Linked DNA regions of Homo sapiens: all the other regions are linked to region 1. Evidence: fine-mapped expression QTL. A gene starts in region 1. Each other region holds a variant in brackets. All regions are shown on one strand. Distances are between the middles of the regions.

What was found. PIP is the estimated chance that this variant, and not a neighbour inherited with it, causes the effect.
Region 2: its variant is the best candidate, but not a certain one, in a credible set for the expression of RABEP1 in esophagus muscle (GTEx, PIP 0.58).
Region 3: its variant is the best candidate, but not a certain one, in a credible set for the expression of RABEP1 in vagina (GTEx, PIP 0.89).
Region 4: its variant is the best candidate, but not a certain one, in a credible set for the expression of RABEP1 in tibial nerve (GTEx, PIP 0.82).
Region 5: its variant is the best candidate, but not a certain one, in a credible set for the expression of RABEP1 in non-classical monocytes (Schmiedel 2018, PIP 0.62).

The regions. Positions count from the first base shown.
Region 1 is chr17:5,279,691-5,284,403 of GRCh38, forward strand. RABEP1 (rabaptin, RAB GTPase binding effector protein 1) reads left to right here and starts at 2,594. Exons shown (of 18, transcript NM_004703.6): 1 at 2,594-2,830. The coding sequence starts at 2,797. RefSeq lists a silencer at 2,314-3,033.
Region 2 is chr17:5,376,645-5,380,644 of GRCh38, forward strand. It overlaps RABEP1 (rabaptin, RAB GTPase binding effector protein 1), which reads left to right. Exons shown (of 18, transcript NM_004703.6): 14 at 472-661; 15 at 1,533-1,588; 16 at 3,720-3,818. Among named protein-coding and RNA genes, the nearest start is that of NUP88, 41 kb to the right of the region's middle. The variant T/C (reference allele first, on the strand shown) is at 2,050.
Region 3 is chr17:5,370,052-5,374,051 of GRCh38, forward strand. RABEP1 (rabaptin, RAB GTPase binding effector protein 1) reads left to right here. Exons shown (of 18, transcript NM_004703.6): 13 at 3,263-3,403. Among named protein-coding and RNA genes, the nearest start is that of NUP88, 48 kb to the right of the region's middle. The variant T/C (reference allele first, on the strand shown) is at 1,601.
Region 4 is chr17:5,691,860-5,696,572 of GRCh38, forward strand. No RefSeq gene overlaps it. Among named protein-coding and RNA genes, the nearest start is that of NLRP1, 110 kb to the left of the region's middle. The variant G/T (reference allele first, on the strand shown) is at 2,308.
Region 5 is chr17:5,250,353-5,254,708 of GRCh38, forward strand. No RefSeq gene overlaps it. Among named protein-coding and RNA genes, the nearest start is that of SCIMP, 18 kb to the left of the region's middle. RefSeq lists an enhancer at 4,166-4,356. The variant C/T (reference allele first, on the strand shown) is at 2,272.

The DNA.
Region 1 (4,713 bases):
GGCTAACATGGTGAAACCCTGTCTCTACTAAAATTACAAGAGTTAACTGGGCGTGGTGACACACGCCTATAATCCTAGCTACTCAGGAGGCTGAGGCAGGAGAATCACTGGAATCCGGGAGGTGGAGGTTGCAGTGAGCTGAGATGGTGCCACTGCCCTCCAGCCTGGGCAATAGAGTGAGAGACTCCGTCTCCAAAAATTAAATAAATAATAAAATAAAATAAAATTACAAACTACTCCAATTAACCGCTAACCTTAATACAGTCTATCCTTCTACTTGGACAAATCTACCTGTTTAAGACCTGGAAGACCAGGTTTAAATTTAGAATTCCTGGGCTCCTGGGAGTTATGCCCATGAATGAGGTGGCGAAAGCAGCACAGGCCCTGGCCCAACTATTGTCTCTTGGCTCACTTGCCTTCTTTTCTCACCTCTGTCCTGCACCATGAGGGATCTGTGGACATAGGAGCTCAAACACCCAAGTGTCGTGTCACCCCCTTAAAATAAAACAAAGCTGCCCTTTAGCCTCCCTTTTTTTCAGTGAGAAATAATCATTTTAATAAAAGTATACCTTATTTAAAACAAATGATTTAAAGAAAGTAGAAACTGATTCTAATTAGTGGATTTTCTGATTATTATTATTATTATTTGAGATGGAGTCTCGATCTGTCGCCCAGGCTGGCAGTGGTGCGATCTTGGCTCACTGCAACCTCCGCCTTCTGGGTTCAAGCAATTCTCTGCCTCAGCCTCCCGAGTAGCTGGGAGTACAGGCGCCTGCCACCACACCCGACTAATTTTTTGTATTTTTAGTAGAGATGGGGTTTCACCATCTTGGAGAGGCTGATCTTGAACTCCTGACCTCGTGATCCACCTGCCTCAGTCTCCCAAAGTGCTGGGATTACAGGCGTGAGCCACTGTGCCCGGCCTATTATTATTTTTTTATTATACTTTAAATTCTTGGATACATGTGCTAAACGTGCAGGTTTGTTACATAGGTATACATGTGCCATGGTGGTTTGCTGCATCTATCAACCCGTCATCTAGGTTTTAAGCCCCGCATGCATTAGGTATTTGTCCTAATGCTCTCCCTCCCCTTCCCCCCACCCCCCACAGGCCCCGGTGTGTGATGTTCCCCTCCCTGTGTCCATGTGTTCTCATTATTCAATTCCCACTTATGAGTGAGAACATGAGGTGTTTGGTTTTCTTTTCCTGTGTTAGTTTGCTGAGAATGATGGTTTCCAGCTTCATGCATGTCCCTGCAAAGGACATGAACTCATTCTTTATGCTTTCACTTTAGCTTCTTTTAGGGATGTCTAGACTCTGCCATAGAGAGAATGGATCTGGGAAAGAGACCACAGCTTCAGCCATCTGGAAAGGGAATTCTGGGGCCACAAGTATTCAGAACTTGGTCCTGAAGTGCCAAACCCTGTGGACTCCCTCATCCTGGGGTGGGATTGCTGGGTCTTAAAATGTACATAATTCCTGATGCTCCTCTCTGATTTCAAAATAGCTTTTTAGGCCGGGCGCGGTGGCTCACGCCTGTAATCCCAGCACTTTGGGAGGCTGAGGCAGGCGGATCACGAGGTCAAGGGTTTGAGACCAGCCTGACCAACATAGTGAAACCCCGTCTCTACTAAAAATACAAAAATTAGCCGGGTGTGGTGGCGTGCGCCTGTTGTCCCAGCTAGTCGGGAGGCTGAGGCAGGAGAATTGCTTGAACCCGGGAGGCAGAGGTTGCAGTGAGCCGAGATCGCACCATGGCACTCCAGCCTGGGTGTCAGAGTGAGACTCTATCTCCAAAAAAAAAAAAAAAGCTTTTTAAACTACCTCCTTGGCATGGGGCACTCCAGGTGTCGAAATCAGACGGGGAGTGGTGATTAGAGGGGAGTTCCTAAAGTATAGGGCCCAGGGGCCCAAGTATAAGGGCCACACTTTGTGTATATGATTTCTCCTTTCCTGCCATGAGTGCAGGGTCTGTACCTGGCTGTATCTCCAGCATCTATCACGACTGAAAACCCAAACGTATTTGCTGAATGGATAGTATACTGGCCTCTGCACCAGAAGACCTGGGGTCCAGGCCCAGTACTGTCGGAAACAGTTCTTCATACTTTATTACCTCGTTTAAACTTTTCTTAGCCATTATATTGATAAAAATTCCAAGAGGTGAAGTGACTCTCCCAAGGTCGCAAAGCTAGAAGAGGTAGAGGCTGGAACTGCACCCCGCCATCGGTCCTCCTCTCTTACTCATTTTTTTTTTTCCCCTCACTGTGCTGGGGTGGAGAACCGGGACCGGCACCTTCGAGAGGCCAGGCCTCTGCTGCAGCCCCTCTTCTCCAGCTCCGCTCGGCACTCAGCCTCCCCGCGCCGCTGGGTCAGGCGCCCAGCTCCGCCGAAACCCTCCCCTCCCGCCGCGCTCCCTCCGCGCTCCCTCCGCGCTCCCTCCGCGCTCCCTCCGCGCTCCCTCCGCGCTCCCTCCGCGCTCCCTCCGCGCTCCCTCCGCGCTCCCTCCGCGCTCCCGAGGCCCCGCCCCTCCCCTCGGGCCAACGTCACGTGCCGCCCCATCCCCCTGCGCCTGCGCACTGCTTATTTCCCGCTGTCAGGATGAGGAGGCGGAGGTCGGCGGTCGGGTCCGTCTCTGCCCGCGGCTGTGGCGGCGCCGGCGGATCCAGCCTTAGCGGTTTCTCTCTGGGCGGCGGCGGCGGCGGCTCGGTTGACGCCTCCTCCGCCAGCTGAGCCCGCGGGAGCCCAGGACGCCGCTTCCCCGCCCATCCCCGCTCCCCGAGGCCGGCCGCCTGGTCATGGCGCAGCCGGGCCCGGCTTCCCAGCCTGACGGTGAGGCGCCCACCATGGCAGGCGCGGCGGGCGCGGCCTGCCCGGCGTCGGCGTCGCGGGAGGATTTCGGGGCGGGCAGGCGGCGGCAAGGGCGCGCGCAGGCCCCGGGGGTGACCCCGCCGGGCGGAGGCGGGGGCGCGCGGGCTGCGGCGCGCGAGGGCGGCGCGGGCGCCCCGGCTGCCGTCGCTGGGGAGGGGGCGGGAGGCGCGGGTGCAGCGCTTGCGGGAGGGCAGAGGGAAGGGCGTGGGGAGGCTGCTGGGTAGCGTGGGGTAGTGTGGGGAGGGAGCGGTTCTGGGTAGCGGGGGACCGGCACGTGGGTTCTGCCCGTGGGGGAGGATGGAAATCGGGAACATGTGCTATATTCGTTAAAGAAAAAAAATCTTAGCTTAGGTAGTGTACCCTCCCTGCCGCCCCAATCCTTGCTATAGAACTCTTTGCACCCAGTTATGTGACCTGAAAGTAGTTGTGTACAGTAACTGGATTTAGTAGCATTCCCTGAATGGCAGTGTGGCTTAATGGTTAAGTGTTGGGGCCTGGGAGTCTAGAGGACCTGTATTCTTAACCAGCAAGCTCTGGGCTCATTTCTTAGCCTCGTTGAGCCTCAGTATTCTCACCCACGAATTAACCAAGAGGTTAATTCATGCCTTTATATTTTATCTATAAAAATAGCAACACGAATGTGTATATACAATAATAGTATTATGGAGGTATTAGGAATAATGAGAATAGTGTTTGAGAATGCTGAGGCCTACTTGCACTACTTGAAGATATTTGCTTGTGGAACTAAAAAAAAAAAAGTGAAGTCGAAGAAATGTGTCATTTATATTCTTGGAAGGAAAAAAGGGCCCCATCCTAAATAATCAAAGTTGGTTGTCAGAGCCCTTCGTGACCTTCTGGGAAATTGGACTAAGCTGTGCTTCACAGATTGACTACATGGTTCCAGGTTTTACCACCTAGAATAGATGTTTGGAAATAGTGTGCTTGGGCTTTTCCAAGGTCCCACTGTATCTAGTTGTGAAAGTACTTTCTGGTGTATTTCTATAATCAGCGTGTGTGCTTAGCATCTTTAAGTGTGAGTAGAGTAGAATGTTGGGAAAAGGGGCTTGGTACGGAGTAGGTACTTTAAAACTTGGCTTTCCTTGGGGTTGTCTCAAAATAACCTTTCGTGAAACCCTTACTTTTTATTTTTGCCTTTGGGGAACTTGAAACCATGTTATCAGATTTTAAGGTTCTGGCTGCTCTCTGGGAAATGTGCTTCAGAGCCTGTTAGCCTGTAGTTTTGGGTGTTGTTGCTTGCCTAAGGGGAGATGTCCAGTAAGCATTTAGACTTTTATAAGAACCTGCTTTGCTGTTTCTGTTCCAGGAGAAGGGAAGGGAAGCATTTTTGGTGGGCTGTCAGAGAGAGGAAACTGGGATGTCTTCAGGCTGCATTTTAATGATCACCTTTTGCATTTGGTGTCAGGCAAGAAAACTTTGTTCTTCCACAATCCCACTTTGTTACTGCACACAGAGGCAAGATACAGAGAGCTTGTGGTTCTGAACAGGAGTGGTAGGTATGCATAGCTGGCTGCTGCCTTCTCTTGAGTTGCATGGAAAGAAACGTCTAGGGCAGCTCAGGTGACATGACCGTCTGGAATCAAAATTCCCTGCCTCTTTGAAGATATGAAATGGTCTTCCTTGTAAATAGGCAGAAGTGACTAAGCACTTGAACGAGGCTAGGGAAAACTAGCTTTAGGAAATCTTGTATTCTTGGTATTTTAGTTCAGGTTTCTTTCCTATTTCTCAAATCTTGTGACTCTAGGATGAGATTTAGTTTGCATAGATTGCAATTTTTATTTTAAATTAATGTAGGTAGCCATGGCTACTTTTTACAGTAGGAGAGA
Region 2 (4,000 bases), 97 kb after region 1:
CTGGTAGATGTTTAGTAAATGTTTGAATGAATGAATAAGTGAGTAAGTAAATAAATGTTATCCTCTTAGTTCACACTTGCTACTGAGTGTGAACTTGCTACTCAGTTTTGTCTTCATTTCCTAACTCCTCCCAAATTTCTGCAAGTAATAGTAGAGGATTCTAAGGTATTATTTCTATTGAATGGCATATTGTAAGTCACTTAATCTTTTTATTTTTCTGCTTATGAAACAGTTTTGAGGGAAGAGTATGTGGCTTACAAGATACGACTTGGCCAGAAATGTCTTTTCTATAACATACTGAATGTTAACCTGACATGGCACCTGCCCTGAAGCTCTAAGTGGCTTAATGGTCAAAGTCTTAATTTTTGAACCATTAAAACAACATCTGAGATTCTGGTTACAGAAAATCTTTAGCTTCTTTATTTCCTTTCACTCTCACAAACCCAATAATCATTTGTTTCTTGAATCCAGGCACTGCGGGAGTTGGTATTAAAATACCGTGAGGACATCATTAATGTGCGGACAGCAGCAGACCACGTAGAAGAAAAGCTGAAGGCTGAGATACTTTTCCTAAAAGAGCAGATCCAAGCAGAACAGTGTTTAAAAGAAAATCTTGAAGAAACTCTGCAACTAGAAATAGAAAACTGCAAGGAGGAAATAGGTGAAGATAAAAGTGATGTAGTTTAGAATTAGAGTCACTAAATAAAACTTTAGTAAAAGAAGCAATACATGGCCATGGAGTCTGGAACACAGAAAAGCTTAGGAAAGAATTTAGTAAGGACTCAGTCCATTTTTTGTAGATATTCTGATATATTCAGATTCTGAATATATATTCTGATATAGTCAAATAATCAGAAATTCTGGTTATTTAAAAAATTTTTTTTTTTTTTTTTTTTTTTGAGACGGAGTTTCATTCTTGTTGCCCAGGCTGGAGTGCAATGGCGCGATCTTGGCTCACCGCAACCTCTGCCTCCCAGGTTCAGGCAATTCTGCTGCCTCAGCCTCCCGAGTAGCTGGGATTACAGGCATGTGTGCCAGCACACCCAGCTAATTTTGTATTTTTAGTAGAGACGGGTTTCTCCATGTTGGTCAAGCTGGTCTCGAACTCCTGACCTCAGGTGATCTGCCTGCCTCGGCCTTGCAAATGCTGGGATTACAGTTGTAAGCCAACGCGCCTGGCCGAAAACTCGTCTTTTTAGGAGTTCTGTGGCCTCTTTGGCAATTATTCATAGATAGGATTCTCAGTACTTGAACCCAGAACCAGGGGAACGTGATTCAATGGGTGGCATTTCCCTGCAGAGATGTGATACATGATCTAGAGGTAGTTTATGACACAGTGTCCATTTGCATGGATCCTGCTTTTCCCTGAGCCTAAATATGCTGATTGCTTGGTGGTAATTTTGAGACAGCCCCCGGAACCCATGTTCAGCATACATTTGAATCCTTTGGGGGGTGCTCTAAAATTTTAAAGAAAAAAATGTTCATGCACAATAATAGATGAATGCTAATACATCTCATTTTTTTCCTTCTAGCTTCTATTTCTAGCCTAAAAGCTGAATTAGAAAGAATAAAAGTGGAAAAAGGACAGGTAAGTCGTGAGTTTCAAATTAATTCTATCAGCAACCAGTGGTTATTTACTGACTCCTACTATGCTGCACCCAACGAATAAAAAATAGTTAAGGCATGGGCCCTGCCTTAAGGAACTTTTGTCTTGTGGGAAGAAAACCACGGGGTAAGGGTGTGCTGGTGATTTATTGAGAGTGCCCTGTGTGTCAGGCTACGTTAAACTGGAGGAGGTAAGGCTAAGATGTGACTGTGGCCTGGAGTTTCCAGTGTAGTGAGAAGATAGGCAAGGCATGGTCATAACATGTTATATGCTTAGAGGTACAGTAGAAATATGTATAAAAAACATTACAAACAAGAGATGACATTTTCTAGCTGGCTTAGTCCTCTTAGACATCATTAGTTCCTTTCATAGTAACCCCATTCAACTTCCTGACCTCACTGTTCCTTGATTTAGAGATTTTCACCTCCACCCTGCTCTCCCCT[T/C]CCACACACTGGGCTGCATTTTGCCCAACTGTGACATCTCACTGCAGCCTTAAGTTCCTTGACCACAATCTGCCATCCTTCCAGCTCTTCCATCGGAGTACCTCATTCAGACCTCCAGTTCTCTGAACTTCCCCTTTCATTCTGGTTTCAGCAGCTTCATGGCTTGCTTTCTTTCCCCTAGGTTGCATCTTACTGGCCTGCCTCTTCCCTTCATCTCCCACCACACCTGTCCCTATGGTCTTTGACTCCTTGTCCTGCTGCTGCCCTCACCTGACCACTGCCCAACCTTGGACTAGTCTTGCTGTCCCCAGCTGCTGATGCCACGAGACTTGGTGACACTGCATGCTCAAGCTGCCAGATGGGCCTCCAGTGTTCCTCATGCAGCCTTTCATGTGTCCTAAGTTGCGTCTCTTCCATTCCTCACAGTGGCAGTTTCAGAGTCACCTCACCTCAGCCCCCTCACTCTCAGCAGATGCTGGCCTCACTCCTCAGGCATCAGGCAGGGCCACCTTCAGCTACTGGGCTCCTCAATTACAGGTTTTCCTTTTATTCCCAGTCTTTTCTTTTTCTTCAGAGAATATCATGACCTGCTTCTGACCACAGTGTCATTGCATAGGTGCTTTGACTGAGTATCTCCGACTTTTCCAGATGTCCCCGCGCAGTGCCGGGCCTTGAACTTCTGCCTCTTGACTGATCTTTTCCATTATGCATGAACAGGCTCAGGTGTCTCATATTCAGAAGGAAAAAGTCTGTCTTTGGATTGCACTCCTCTCCCGAGCTACCACTCTTTCTTCCTCCCTCTGTTGCCACAGTCTTGATCATCATCACTGCCTGACTTCCCAGGCATCCCTCCACCTGCTGCAGTCTGCCTCCTGCCTCCACTTTGCTACTGATATTGCACCAGCAGAAATTACCAGCGCTCGAAATAACATCTCATCCTTTCCATTCTAGCTGCCACTCTTTGAGTTCAGACTTCACTCTCACCTGGCTTATTGTAACAGCCTAACTTTCCCTGCCTCCAAAATTTGTCCCTAAATCATCTCCATATTGAAATCAAGGTGATATTTAAACATTAGAAACTTGTTCGCGTCCCAGTCTAGTGGAAAGCCCTCCCGTAGTTCCCTTTATTTTACAGGATCAAGTCCATATCCTTAGCCCAGCCAGAGCTCTCCTGCCTCACACCTCTCTGCCTCAGTGCCTGTGGCTCCCAACGTGCTGTGCTGTAGGCCAGCCGAACATGCCACTGTTGCTGCATGTGTTTTTAGTGCGTGCCATCCATTCCCTCTTATTGGAGTATCTCTCCATCTTCTCCCCTTGTCACCCTTGTCTTTGCCCTGTAAAAATGTAGGAGTCAAATGTCATCTCCTCTAGGAAGTCCTTTGTAACTTTTCTGGCAGAATTAAATGCTTCTTTCTTCATCCTTTACATGTCTGTTTACCCTGATTTCTCCATTTTGAGGCCTTAGAATATAGTAGGCACCTAATAATGGTTAATGAAAGAATAGTTCAGGAAGAATACAGAGGGGATCCACAGAGCTGAAAGGGTGAGAGGAGTATTCCCAGTGTAGCCCGAGTGTCTTGGTGTAATTCTCCAGGCTCTAGGCTCTTTTAGGTAGTGCACTGGGGCCCAGAGGGAGTTTCTGTGAGTTTCAGCTTTTTCCTTTTTCACAGTTGGAGTCCACATTAAGAGAGAAGTCTCAACAGCTTGAGAGTCTTCAGGAAATAAAGATCAGTTTGGAAGAGCAGTTAAAGAAAGAGACTGCTGCTAAGGTAGTGTTTTCATTAGTCATTTAATTTTAAAAAGCAGGGCTAAGAATGCAGGATCACATCTTGCTTGTTGAAAAAAAAATATTGGTGCTTTGAAGTGTCACCTTTTAAAAAGTTGGCAAAACTGACAGCTTGTGAAAAGAAAAAACTTAAACGAATTGATCTATTCCAGCTGGGTTAAATCT
Region 3 (4,000 bases), 90 kb after region 1:
TCACTTAAAATGAATGTGTGTCAGTGACACTGGAGAACTGTTGAAATTAAGGTTGAGGTCCTATGAACTCCAGTACATGACCATTTTGTTGAAATTACCATAAAGAAGAGAAACTCACCACGTTAGTGCATGCTTGCCCTTGTTCTTAGTCTTTCTGTGTATGTTTGTAGGTATATGATGTGTGTGTGTACGTATGTCTTGGTTTGTGTTTTTTGCTGGACTGTTTGGAGTTATTGTAGACATGACAGTCGTAAGTATTTTAGTATGTATTTCCTAAAACAAAGAGTTGTTCTGCATCGCTACAGTACTGTTATTACATCCTTAAAATTTAACCAGTTGTCCCAGTAAGTCCTTGATTACTTTTTAGTGGTGGTTTTCCTTTTTATATTTTCTATATTTTGATCCAGGAACCAATCAGTGATCACATATTTCATCTTGTTGCCATGTCGCTTTAGTCACTTTTCATCTAGAACAGTCTCCCACTCTCTTTTTATTTTTAAGAATCCGGCCAATTGCTTTGTTTCAGGCCATCTGTCTTGTAGAATTCATTTGTCTGATTATCTCCTTGTGATTTGATTCAGGTTAGACATCTTGGCAAGAATACTGCACAGATGAAATGGTTCAATGGGAGGTTCATAACATAATGAGGCACGTTAATGATGGGTGCTTCCATTACTGGGGATGTTAAATTTGATCACTCGGTTAAGGTGGGGACAAAATAGTTTCAGAATGACTATATCAATATTACTACCAACAGCAAATCTACTAAGTAAAGGCCAACATTTCTTTGTAGTTCTGCCCTTAGACTGTATCTCAGATAAGGGTTTACAGTTTAAGTACTGTGTTCAAATGTTAGTTTTTCTCTCTGTGGTTGTATTAGGAATTTGATATATAGTTAGCTCCATTTGTTTCTCTTTTTTTTTTTTTGTTTTTGAGACGGAGTCTTGCTCTGTCGCCCAGGTTGGAGTGCAGTGGCGCGATCTCGGCTCACTGCAAGCTCCGCCTCCCGGGCTCACGCCATTCTCCTGCCTCAGCCTCTGGAGTAGCTGGGACTACATGCGCCCGCCACCACGCCTGGAGAATTTTTTGTTTTTTCAGTGGAGACGGGGTTTCACCGTGTTAGCCAGGATGGTCTCGATCTCCTGACCTCGTGATCCACCCGCCTCGGCCTCCCAAAGTGCTGGGATTACAGGCGTGAGCCACTGCGCCTGGGCTGTTTCTCTTTATATTACATTTTCAGATTTGATTTTTCTTTCTTGATTTATATTTTGAATATGTAACATGGTTCATAATCAAAAGTATAAAAATAAATACTCAGCTCCATTTCCATTCCCTGTCCTTTTCACCCCATTTCCACTCACTCTTATACGTAATTATTTTAATTTATTTTTGGCTTATCCTTCTGTTTTTCTCTTTACAAAAACAAGCAAATATATACATATTCTTTTTTCCCTTCTTTCATATCCAGAAGGTGGTGGGATACTAAGATTTTGTTGTAAATGGGTGACAGTGATCATAAAGCACAGTGGATTCTAGTCTGAAGACAATAAGAGCCAGTGGGCTTTAGCCAGAGCATATGCATGGCCGTGACTGCCTGTCT[T/C]AGGCCTGTTTGTCCTTCAGAATGCAGCTCAGTCATCGCCTCCTCTGGGAAGTGTTCTTTAACCCTCTTCCCAATTTCCTGCCCCAAATTAGGTACCCCTTTGTCCTTTTATCACTGCAGTACCCAATCTCTGTCATAGCAGTTTATGGTATTGTAGAGTAGTTTTTGGTTTACTTGTCTTTCTCCTCTATTGGACCATGAGCTTCTCCAGGGCAAAGTCTTTGTCTTTTATCTCTGTATTTCCTGTGGGCAGCAAAACACGTGGCATAGAGTAGTAGCTGCACAATAAACATCGTATGAGAGCATCATCTACATGTATGTGTGCCCTTAAGGTAAGTGACTTTAGTACTACAGATTAGCAGGAGTCACGTGCTTTTGTAGAGCTTTATCTGATACTCGGATTTGGTGGATAACTTTTATATTGATACAAATAATATGAAATACCTAAAATTGTTTTACACATCAACAAGCAGAAGTGGGAGTGTGTCCCATTTTAAGAATAAGCTTCTCTGGCTGGGTGCGGTGGCTCACGCCTGTAATCCCAGTACTTTGGGAGGCTGAGGTGGGCGGATCACGAGGTCAGGAGATTGAGACCAGCCTGGCCAACATAGTGAAACCCTGCCTCTACTAAAAATACAAAAAAATGAGCTGGGCGTGGTGGTGCGTGCCTGTAGTCCCAGCTACTTGGGAGGCTGAGGCAGGAGAATCACTTGAACCGGGACTCGGGAGGTGGAGGTTGCAGTGAGCCGAGATCACACCACTGCATTCCAGCCTGGGCTACAGAGCGAGACTGTCTCAAAAGAAAAAAAAGAATAAGCTTCTCAAGTGCTCTGTGATTCCTGAGCTTAGATGCTCTTGATGACTTCCAGTATCTGGGCCTGCTGGGCCATTCACAGTGATTCCGAGCCTAAACAGAGGTATACATAATAGGAAATGAAGACACTACTCTGTTTCTCCCTCCTTTCTGTCCAGTGCACGCCATGGGGAAATGGGAGTTGTCTTAGAGTACATGCTCTGTCTGATATAGGTCTTGATGGTGTCAGCCACTTCCATTGAACTAGAGATCCTGGTCCTTCTGTAGTACAGGGATATGGAGGGAAAATATTAATTTTTTTTTTTTTTTGAGATGGAGTCTTGCTCTGTGGCCCAGGATGGGCGCAACGGTGCAATCTCGGCTCACTGCAACCTCCGCCTCCTGGGTTCAAGCGATTCTCCGGCCTCAGCCTCCCTCCCTAGTTGCTGGGATTACAGGCACCCCGCTGTACCCAGCTAACTTTCTGCATTTTAGTAGAGACAGGGTTTCACTGTTTTGCCCAGGCTGGTCTCAAACTCCTGAGCTCAGGCAATCCACCCACCTCAGCCTCCCAAAGTGTTGGGATTACAGGCGTGAGCCACCACACCCAACCAAAAGATAGAATTTTTAAGCGGTTTGTAGAAACAGTGGAGAATGAGCCTCAGATACTTGCTTCATTGCCTGTCCCTTGTTGAATATATGCTGTAAACCAGAAAATCTCTGTGCAGCTTTTTCTAAGTCTAGCAGAACTTCACCATACCCCGTCCATCCTCAGCACTCCTTTAGTTTGGACTTGTTTTTCTCTGGTGTAGCTATCACCAGACCGGATCTACCTTTCTGGCTGTGATTAGTATCTACTTCTATTTTAGGCGGTGCTGATGCAGTCACGGGAACAGGTTTCAGAAGAGCTGGTGAGGTTACAGAAAGATAATGACAGTCTCCAGGGAAAGCACAGCCTGCATGTGTCATTACAGCAAGCAGAAGACTTCATCCTCCCAGACACTACAGAGGTAACTTACTTTCCACATGATCAAAAATGTCAACAAGTACGTTTTCTGAAATGGCCGTATGTTCTTTATGTAAACAGTTTTATTCAGATATAATTCACGTGCCAATTCAACCATTTAAAATGTACCATTCAGTGGTTTTTGCTGTACTCACAGATGTGTGCAACCATCATCACAATCAATTTTAGAACATTTTCATCACCTCAAGTAGTAACTCCCTGTGACCCGACTACACCAGCTAAACACACACACACACACACACACACACACACACACACACACACACGAAAAAGTAACACTTCGCCCTTTAGCTACCATCCTTATTCCCCCTCCTCCCCTAGCCTTAAGCAACTACTAACCTTTCTGCCTCTATAGATTTCCCTATTCTGGACTTTCCTATGAATAGAATCATACGATATGTGGTCTTTTGTGTCCATGTTCTTTCACGTAGCCTTAATGTTTTGAAGATCTATGTTATTTTTGTCGGCCCAGATTGAGAGTGTGCCAGAAATTAAATGTTTGAAGGGGTTACCATGCTGGCTGCTTATGACGTTTGTTTTTGTATCTAGTACTTGAAAAGTTATAACACACTCACCATCA
Region 4 (4,713 bases), 410 kb after region 1:
TTATAAATCATACTATTACCAATCTGCAGAATATTAGTACATTCCTAAACTATGTTAATATTTAACACATAGTTTAATTTCTTATTTTTATATAAAAATATAAATGTTCTAATATTTTCCTCCCACACTATTTACTGGTTTGCTCACACCCCATTGATTTAATCCATTTTGCCCAGTCCAGAGACAGTTTTGTAGACAGACATGATATCTTGTGAAAAAGGGTGAAAAAATGTGTCATTTCACACCAAATCCCACTGTAGGAACCTCTGATGGGGTGGGCACAGTCTATCTCAGTGGGAAAATAAATCCTGATCTTCCACTTACAAGGTCAGGGAGGGAGAAGGGGAAGAATGAAATTTCAAGACCAGGCTCTATGTGGATGGAGGACTCCTGCAGAGGCCACAGTCATGCCATTTTTTGCCTCTTTGGCCTGAAAGGGCAAGCGCTGGGTCCTGACGGGGCTAGGACTGAATGCTTGGCATAATAAAGTGAGAGGAGGTGCACTGAATGGAGGGTGAATAATATTCCATTAGTATTAAGTAATTAATTAATTACATCCAATAATATCCCATCATATGTATTAACCACATTTTCTTTATCCGTTCATTGGATAAAGATGGACACTTGAGTTGCTTCTTTTTTTTTTTTGAGACCGAGTCTCGCTCTGTTGCCCAGGTTGGAGTGGAGTAGCGCATGGGAGTTAAAATGTGATGAAGCCCGGCGTGGTGCCTCACACCTGTAATCCCAGCACCCTGGGAGGCTGAGGCGGGCGGATCACCTGAGGTTAGGAGTTCAAGACCAGCCTGGCCAACATGGTGAAACCCCGTCTCTACTAAAAATACAAAGTTAGCCGGGTGTGGTGGCAGATGCCTGTAATTCCAGCTACTCTGGAGGCTGAGGCAGGAGAATCGCTTGAACCTGGGAGGTGGAGGTTGCAGTGAGCTGAGATCACTCCACTGCACCCCAGCCTGAGTCACACGAGTAAAATTCTGTCTCAAAAAAAAAAAAATTGTGATGAGATAGAGGCACTGGAGGTTAGGAGCTTGGGCGCTGGTGCCTGGCTGCCATAGTTAGTGTCCTAGCTCTGTGTCCTCGGGCAAGTTACTTCGCCTCTCTGTGCCCCATTCCCATCATCTGTTAAATGGGGTTAATAATTTCTACCTCACAGGGGGTTGTGAGGAGTGGATGGTCTAATACGCACAAAGCACTCTGAACAGCTTAATAAATGTTAGCTGTTACTTTTGAGACGAACGCCAGCCGGAATTTGAAGCTACAATGCAGAGTTGAAAGTAATCCCCAGACTTTGAGCCCCTGAGAACTCAGAGACATCTTAGGATTCAGTGCTTGGGCCAATCTTATTCCAATGTGAAAGGACAGGGTGACCTCAGCTGACCAGCCCAATTGCTGTGGTGACTGGGATTTGGTTCTCACCTCCCAGCCTGGGTTTTGTTTTCTAATATGATGAGGCCCCAATGCTGTCATCTCGAGAGCAGGAAGAGAGAGTTTTGCTCTTCTTGTTTAGTGCCAACCAGGCTCCCCCAACCATAGAAATCCCCAGAGGACTCTTCCATCAAAGTGAATATTCATAAAGTGCTTTAGAGTTGACAGAGTCCCTTTATATCCATTATCTTATTTGATGACCCCAATAATATTATGACCCTTCTATTTGCTGGGGCACTGAGGGGAGTGAGAGTCGGGGAGAGAGGTGGGAGGGGAAGGGAGGAGGGAGAAGAGAGGAAAGGAGAGGGGAAGGGAGGGGTAAAAGTAATGCTGAAATGTTGAGACTGGCTTTTATTTTTATTTTTCATTTTTTCAACAGTAGAGATGGGGTCTTGCTATGTTGGCCAGGGTAGTCTTGAACTCCTGGACTCGAGCAATTGTCTTGCCTCAGCCTCTAAAAATGCTGAGATTACAGGCCACCACACCCTGACAACTCTCTTATTTTGATTTTATTATATTTATTTTTGTTTTTAATAAGAACCTGGGTCTTTTTGACTCAAATATCCATGTGCTTCTGCTTTACCAGCTGGCCTTCAGGTGGGAGAAGCAGGCCCTCTGTGTGCCCAGCCTGGGTTCAGTCACTGACTCAGTGCCCAGCACAAGGTGGGTGGCTCCCCCAGGGGCCCTTGCTACCCTCACCATGAGCCACGCTGAGCTACAGATCTGATGCCTGGGTCTCCGCCAAGGGCTCGGGCTAACACGCCCTGTTTGGACTCAGCCAGGTGACCCATGATGGTAACAGCCGGCTTGCCGGCCTCGCCTTCCTTGCAAGAAGTTATGGAATAACATCAGAGCTTTTTGAGGCAG[G/T]TGTTAATCATGTCCCCATTTTACCGGTGAGGACGCTGAGACTTGGAGAAGCTCCCATCTGTGAGTAAGTGTTGGAGCCAGGTCTGTCTGACCTCGAAGTTGAACTTCCACTCTCCACTCTGAGAAGAAGCGTGCTTAGGGAGGCGCTGCTTGTAGAAAAGGATCCTGGAGAACTATTCATTTGTCATCACTCAGGCCAAGAGAGTAACAGAAGAAATGATCAATGAAAAACCCTCCAAAAGTTGTCATCGGCTTGGGTTTATCCTGCTTTAAATCATAACTTAAGCAGCCTGAAATGGTATTTCCCAAAGATGGGAATGAAATTCTGGTTATTCAAGGAAGAAGCCAAGGGCTGGGGGTTTGCAGGAGCAGTTTCCAGACTCCCAGGAGTGCAGGTAAGCTCTGAAGAGGCGGAAGGGAGGAAGGGAAGAGCAGGGGAGGAGGAGGGGCTGGAGCCCAACGAGAGAGGGAGGGGCCTGTCTAAGCCCATACTGCACTGGGGACAGCTCTTCCCCTGGGGCAACGACAGGCTCTTACCATCAGCCTTTTCCCAAGATGCCCCGGGGCACAGTTAAGTGCTTTAAGTGGCAGCTCCGCAAAAGGCCATCTCCCGCCAAGACTATAAAATGGAAAAATGGTGATGCTATATTCACGGCAAAGAATCAAGCGAGCAGAGCCTTAACAAGGAATTTATAAATCAGTTACTAGGAACATTAAAATGCCTCTTGCTGCACTTAATCTCCAGCTTCCTTTCTTCTTCCAAATACCTAACACATCAGTCTTTTTTACTGGCTCTGGTGGACCCTTCAAGGAAGTCTGTTCCTTTTTCAGAATAAATATATGTGTATTCTCTTGTCTGACTCAACTCGACTGTAAAACAAATAATGATACGTGCTTACTCTGGTTCTTCAGATAAATATGAGAGGAGGCAGTTTTGTCTTTCTTTGGTCTGGGACATCCCTGGGAGCAGGAATCATGGCTGTGCCAAGCACAGTTTCTGTAGCTGCATCCCATGCGATCCTGTAAGTAGGCACACTTGGAATGTAACGCCAGCAACGCGTGGTCTAGACATAGTCAAGCTTGGCCCAATAAAAACAGGAGAACCAAACTGCACTCCAAGGCATTCCCCAAGACTCTTGTATAATAAGAACAGCCAACGCTTCCATGAGCCTACCTTAGGCCAACTGCTGTCCTAAGCACATTGCGTTTATCAACTCCATTTATCTTCACAATAACCCTAGTACTGTTATGTTCTCCATATTATAGATGAGGAAACAGAGGCACAGAGATATTAACTTTCCCACTTTCATACAACCAGTGACTGGGGGAGTTGGCCTGTGGACCCAGGCAGCCTGACCCAGCAACAGGGCTCATAAACTTTGTGCTATATGGCTGTAACAAGAAGGCTAGTTTTACCATTTACCCTATGATATGATCAGGCTTTGTGTCCCCACCCAAATCTCATCTTGAACTACAATCCCCACAATTCCCATAATCCCCATGTGTCAAGGGAGAGACCAGGTGGAGGTAATTGGATCATGGGCGTGGTTTCCCCTGTGCTGTTCTCACGATAGTGAATTCTCAAGAGATCGGATGGTTTTATAAGGGGCTCTTCCCCCTTTGCTTGGCATTTCTCCTCCCTGCTGTCTTATGAAGAAGGTACCTTGCTTCCCCTTCACCTTCTGCCATAATTGTAAGTTTTCTGAGGCCTCCCCAGCTATGATTGTAAGTTTCCTGAGGCCTCCCCAGACATGATGAGCTGTGAGTCAACCAAACCTCTTTCCTTTATCAATTACCCGGTCTCAGGCAGTTCTTTATAGGAGTATAAAAACAGACGAATATACCCTCGTTCTGGGAGGATTCAGGGACCCAGGCTGCAATGAGAGGGCAGAGCTGCTGGGAGCCACCAATTTGGTTATTCCCAGGATGTCTGTTTGCTGGGCTGGTATGTTGTGGGTTGTTTTTGTAATCTCCACCTTAAAGCACATTTGGTCAAGTCTTATGAGAGGCTTCCGCTGGAGCTGTTTAAGTGGTGGCAGCTGAGGCAGGCCCCTGTCACTCAGGGAAGGCAGCCCTGTGAAGGACGCCTGGGTCTGGAGATCTGCAAGGGAGAGACTTTCTCCTGGAGAACTTTGGGGAAGCTTGGCTCAGTAAAGAGGAGGCAAGGTGGCCTGAACACAGACACTGGGCTGAGGTACATCTCTAAGATGACTGTGTGTGACCAGGAAGTGCTTCTGATCCTGGATACCTGGTGATATTCCAGCTGGTGAATGTAGCATCCCAGCCTGAATTTCAGCATTTGGGTCCTCCTTGAGAGATTCTGAGAATCTCCTTGCCAATATCTGTTTCTGGTCCTTGCAGACATCCAGACACTGCTGGACTTAGTCACTCACTCTATAGACCAGC
Region 5 (4,356 bases), 30 kb before region 1:
TAATTCCAGCTACTTGGGAGGCCGAGGCAGGAGAATCGCTTGAACCCAGGAGGCAGAGCTTGCGGTGAGCCGAGATCGCGCCACTGTACTCCAGCCTGGGTGACAGAGTGAGATTCCATCTCAATTAAAAAAAAAATACAGTGGAATATTATTCAGCCTTAATAAGAGAGGAAGTTCTGGTACATGCGACACCAGGAATGAATCTGGAGGATGCAATACTAAAGTGAAGCAAGCCAGACATAAAAAATAAACATTGTGCCTGAGCGCGGTGGCTCACGCCTGTAATCCCAGCACTCTGGGAGGCCGAAGCAGGCAGATCACTTGAGGTCAGGAGTTTGAGACCAGCCTGGTCAACATGGTGAAACCCCGTCTCTACTAAAAATACAAAAATTAGCTGGGCATGGTGGTGCATGCCTGTAATCCCAGCTACTCAGGAGTCTGAGGCAGGAGAATCACTTGAACCCGGGAGGCAGAAGTTGCAGTGAGCTGAGATCGTGCCACTACACTCCAACCTGGGTGACAGAGCGAGATTCTGTCTTTAAAAAAAAAAAATTGTATGATTCCACTTATATTGAGGTACCTAAAATTGGCAAATTCATACAAAGAGAAAGTAGAATGATGGTTGCCAAGTGCTGGCGGAAGGGGAAAAAAATTCGTTGGTAAAATTGGAATCATATTTCACACATCAAAACTAATTCCAGATTTTAGTTAAAATTTAAATGTAAAAAAATAAAACAAATATTCTTAAATATTCATGTCATGAATAGTAAATATAATTTGTCTTCTTTATGATTTTCTTTTTTCTTTTTCTTTCTTTCTTTTTTTTTTTTTGAGAGAGTTTCGCTCTTGTTGCCTCAGGCTGGAGTGCAATGGCGTGATCTCAGCTGACTGTAACCTCTGCCTCCCGGGTTCAAGTGATTCTCCTGCCTCAGCCTCCTGAGTAGCTGGGATTACAGGCATGCGCCACCGCACCCGGCTAATTTTGTATTTTTAGTAGAGATGGGGTTTCTCCATGTTGGTCAGGCTGGTCTCGAACTCCCGACCTCAGGTGATCCACCCACATCGGCCTCCTAAAGTGCTAAGTGCTAGGATTACAGGTATGATGAGCCATTGCACCTGGCCTTTTTTTTTTTTTTTTTTTTGAGACGGAATCTTGCTGTGTCGCTCAGGCTGGAGTACAGTGGTGCAATCTCTGCCCACTGCAACCTCTGCCTCCCAGGTTCAAGCAATTCTCCTGCCTCTGCCTCCCAAATAGCTTGGATTACAGGAGCCCACCACCATGTCCGACTAATTTTTGTATTTTTGGTAGAGATGGAGTTTTGCCATGTTGGTCAGGTGGTCTCGAATTCCTGGCCTCAAGTAATCTGCCTGCCTCAGCCTCCCAAAGTGCTGGGATTAGAGGTGTGAGCCACTGCACCTGGCCTATGATTTTCTTAATAACATTTTCTTTTCTCTATCTTACTTTACTGTAAGAATACAGTATATAATACATATAACATACAAAATGTGTTAATCGATTGTTAATGTTATTGGTAAGGCTTCTGGTCAACAGCAGGCTATTAGCAGTTAAGCCTACTATTGACCAGAAGCCTTACCAATAACATGTGGGATGTCAACTGCACCAGGGGTTGGCACCCCTAACCCCTGTGTTGTTAAAGGGTCAACTATTCTTATTTTCCAACCTAATGTTGCCCTCCTCAGAGAGGCTTTGATTTTATCTAAAATAACATCCCTCAGTGAAAAATTACCAAGTATTCAATAAATCTGAAAAATACTTTCATGATGAAGAGAAAAATCAATTGCAACAGACCCAGGAATAACAGAGATGATGAGATTAGTGGACAAGAGCATGTTATGTAGAGACATAGAAGATATATAGATACTGATAGACTATGTATGTATATATGAGTGTATCTATCATCTATCTCTTCTAGAGATGAAAAGTACACTGAATGGAATTTGCAGCAGATTACACACTGCAGACCACAGATTAATGAATTTGACACAGTAATAGAAATTATCCGGGCGGGCCGTGGTGGCTCACACCTGTAATCCCAGCACTTTGGGAGGCCGAGGAAGGCGGATCACCTGAGGTCAGGAGTTCGAGACCAGCCTGGCCAACATAGAGAAACCCAGTCTTTACTAAAAATACAAAATTAGCCGGGCGTGGTGGTGCATGCCTGTAATCCCAGTTACTCAGGAGGCTGAGGCAGGAGAATCACTTGAACCTGGGAGGTGGAGGTTGCGGTGAGCCGAGATCACGCCACTGCA[C/T]TCCAGCCTGGGCAACAAGAGTGAAATTCCTTCTCAAAAAAAAAAAAAGAGAGAAAGAAAAAAGAAAAAGGAAAAGAAAGTAATCTGAAGTGAAATACAGAGAAAGACAACGGCTGAGAATAAATGACAGTGAGTTGGGGGATAACTTCCAGAAGCCTAATGTACGTGTAACTGGAGTTTCCAATAACCGAGACTCCATTTCCAAAAGGAGGAGGTACAGAAAAATATATTCAAAGAAATAAGGGAAAAATTTTTCCTAACTTGATGAGAATGATACACCCGTAGATAATACACCCACCCAGCAAGCTCAATGAACCCAAAGCACAAGAATCATGAAGAACACTAATCAAAGTGCATCTTTTTTTTTTTTTTTTTTTTTGAGACGGAGCCTCGCTCTGTCACCCAAGCTGGAGTGCGGTGGCGCGATCTCGGCTCACTGCAAGCTCCGCCTCCTGGGTTCACGCCATTCTCCTGCCTCAGCCTCCCGAGTAGCTGGGACTACATGTGCCCACCACAATGCCCGGCTAATTTTTTTGTATTTTTTTAGTAGAGACGGGGTTTCACCGTGTTAACCAGGATGGTCTCGATCTCCTGACCTCATGATCCGCCCGCCTCGGCCTCCCAAAGTGCTGGGATTACAGGCGTGAGCCACCACGCCCAGCCCAAGGTGCATCTTAATCGGGCTACTTACAAACAGCAATGAAGAGAAGATATAAAAGCAGCCAGAGAAAAAAACAAATATAAAAATGACAGCAATCTTCTTTTTGGGAGTTAATGTGATGCAGAAGATGCTAAAGCAACATTTAAAAAGTACTAAAAGGGCCGGATGCTGTGGTTCACACCTGTAATTCCAGCACTTTGGGAGGCCAAGTCCGGTGGACCATTTGAGGTCAGAGTTCGAGACCAGCCTGACCAACATGGTGAAATCCGTCTCTACTAAAAATACAAAAATTAGCTAGGTATGGTGGCACGTGCCTGAAATCCCAGCTACTGGGGAGGCTGAGGCAGGAGAATTGCTTGAACCTGGGAGGCGGAGGTTGCAGTGAGCTGAGATCATGCCACTGCACTCCAGCCTGGGTGACAGAGCAAGACTCTGTCAAAAAAAAATTAAGAAAGAAATAAAGAAAATCGAAATAAAGAAAATCAAAATAAATGAAAGTTCTATCATATTCATGGATCGTAAGACTCAATATTGGTAAGATTTCAATTCTCCACAAATTGATCTACAAAATCAACACAGTTCCAATCAAAACCTTGGTGGGCTTTATTTGGTAGAATGAGCTGATTCTAAAATTTATTTAGAAATGCAAAGTACCTAGAATAGCCAAAATAACTTTGAAGCAGAATAAGTTGGAGGACTTACTACTTGATTCAAGAATTCTCATAAAGCTACAGTAAAAAAAACAATGTGTTATTGTTGCAGGTAATACATAAATAGATCAGTGAAACAGAAAAGAAAGTCAAGCAATAGACCTGCACATATATAGTCAGTTGATTTTTTTTTTTTTTTGAGATGGAGTCTCGCTCTGTCACCCAGGCTGGAGTGCAATGGTGCGATCTCAGCTCACTGCAACCTCTGCCCCCTGGGTTCAAGCAATTCTCCTGCCTCAGCCTCCTGAGTAGCTAGGTTTACAGACGCATGCCACCACGCCCGGCTAATTTTTTGCATTTTCAGTAGAGACGGGGTTTCACCATGTTAGCCAGGATGGCCTCGATCTCCTGACCTTGTGATCCACTCGCCTCAGCCTCCCAAAGTGCTGGGATTACAGGCACGAGCCACCTCGCCTGGCCATGGGTGCGGTTTATTTCATGTCAATCATAACTCAATAAAGCTGTCAAAAAAAAAAAAAAGAAAGAAAGGTGAGCCTGGGGTTGGGAAGGGTGAGTGTCAGTCAGAACATGGAGAACTCAGAAGCCAGACGGAGGGGTGTAGACGATCCCCCGGTGATGGGCCAGCACCCGAGCATTTCAGAAAGGAGTGGGTTGTGGGAAGCCAACACTGTCAGCAGGATCTGGAATGGATTGGATGCCAAAGAAAGGAGTGTGGGCAGGAGCTCCTTGCAAGGTACCTACTATAGTGGTGGG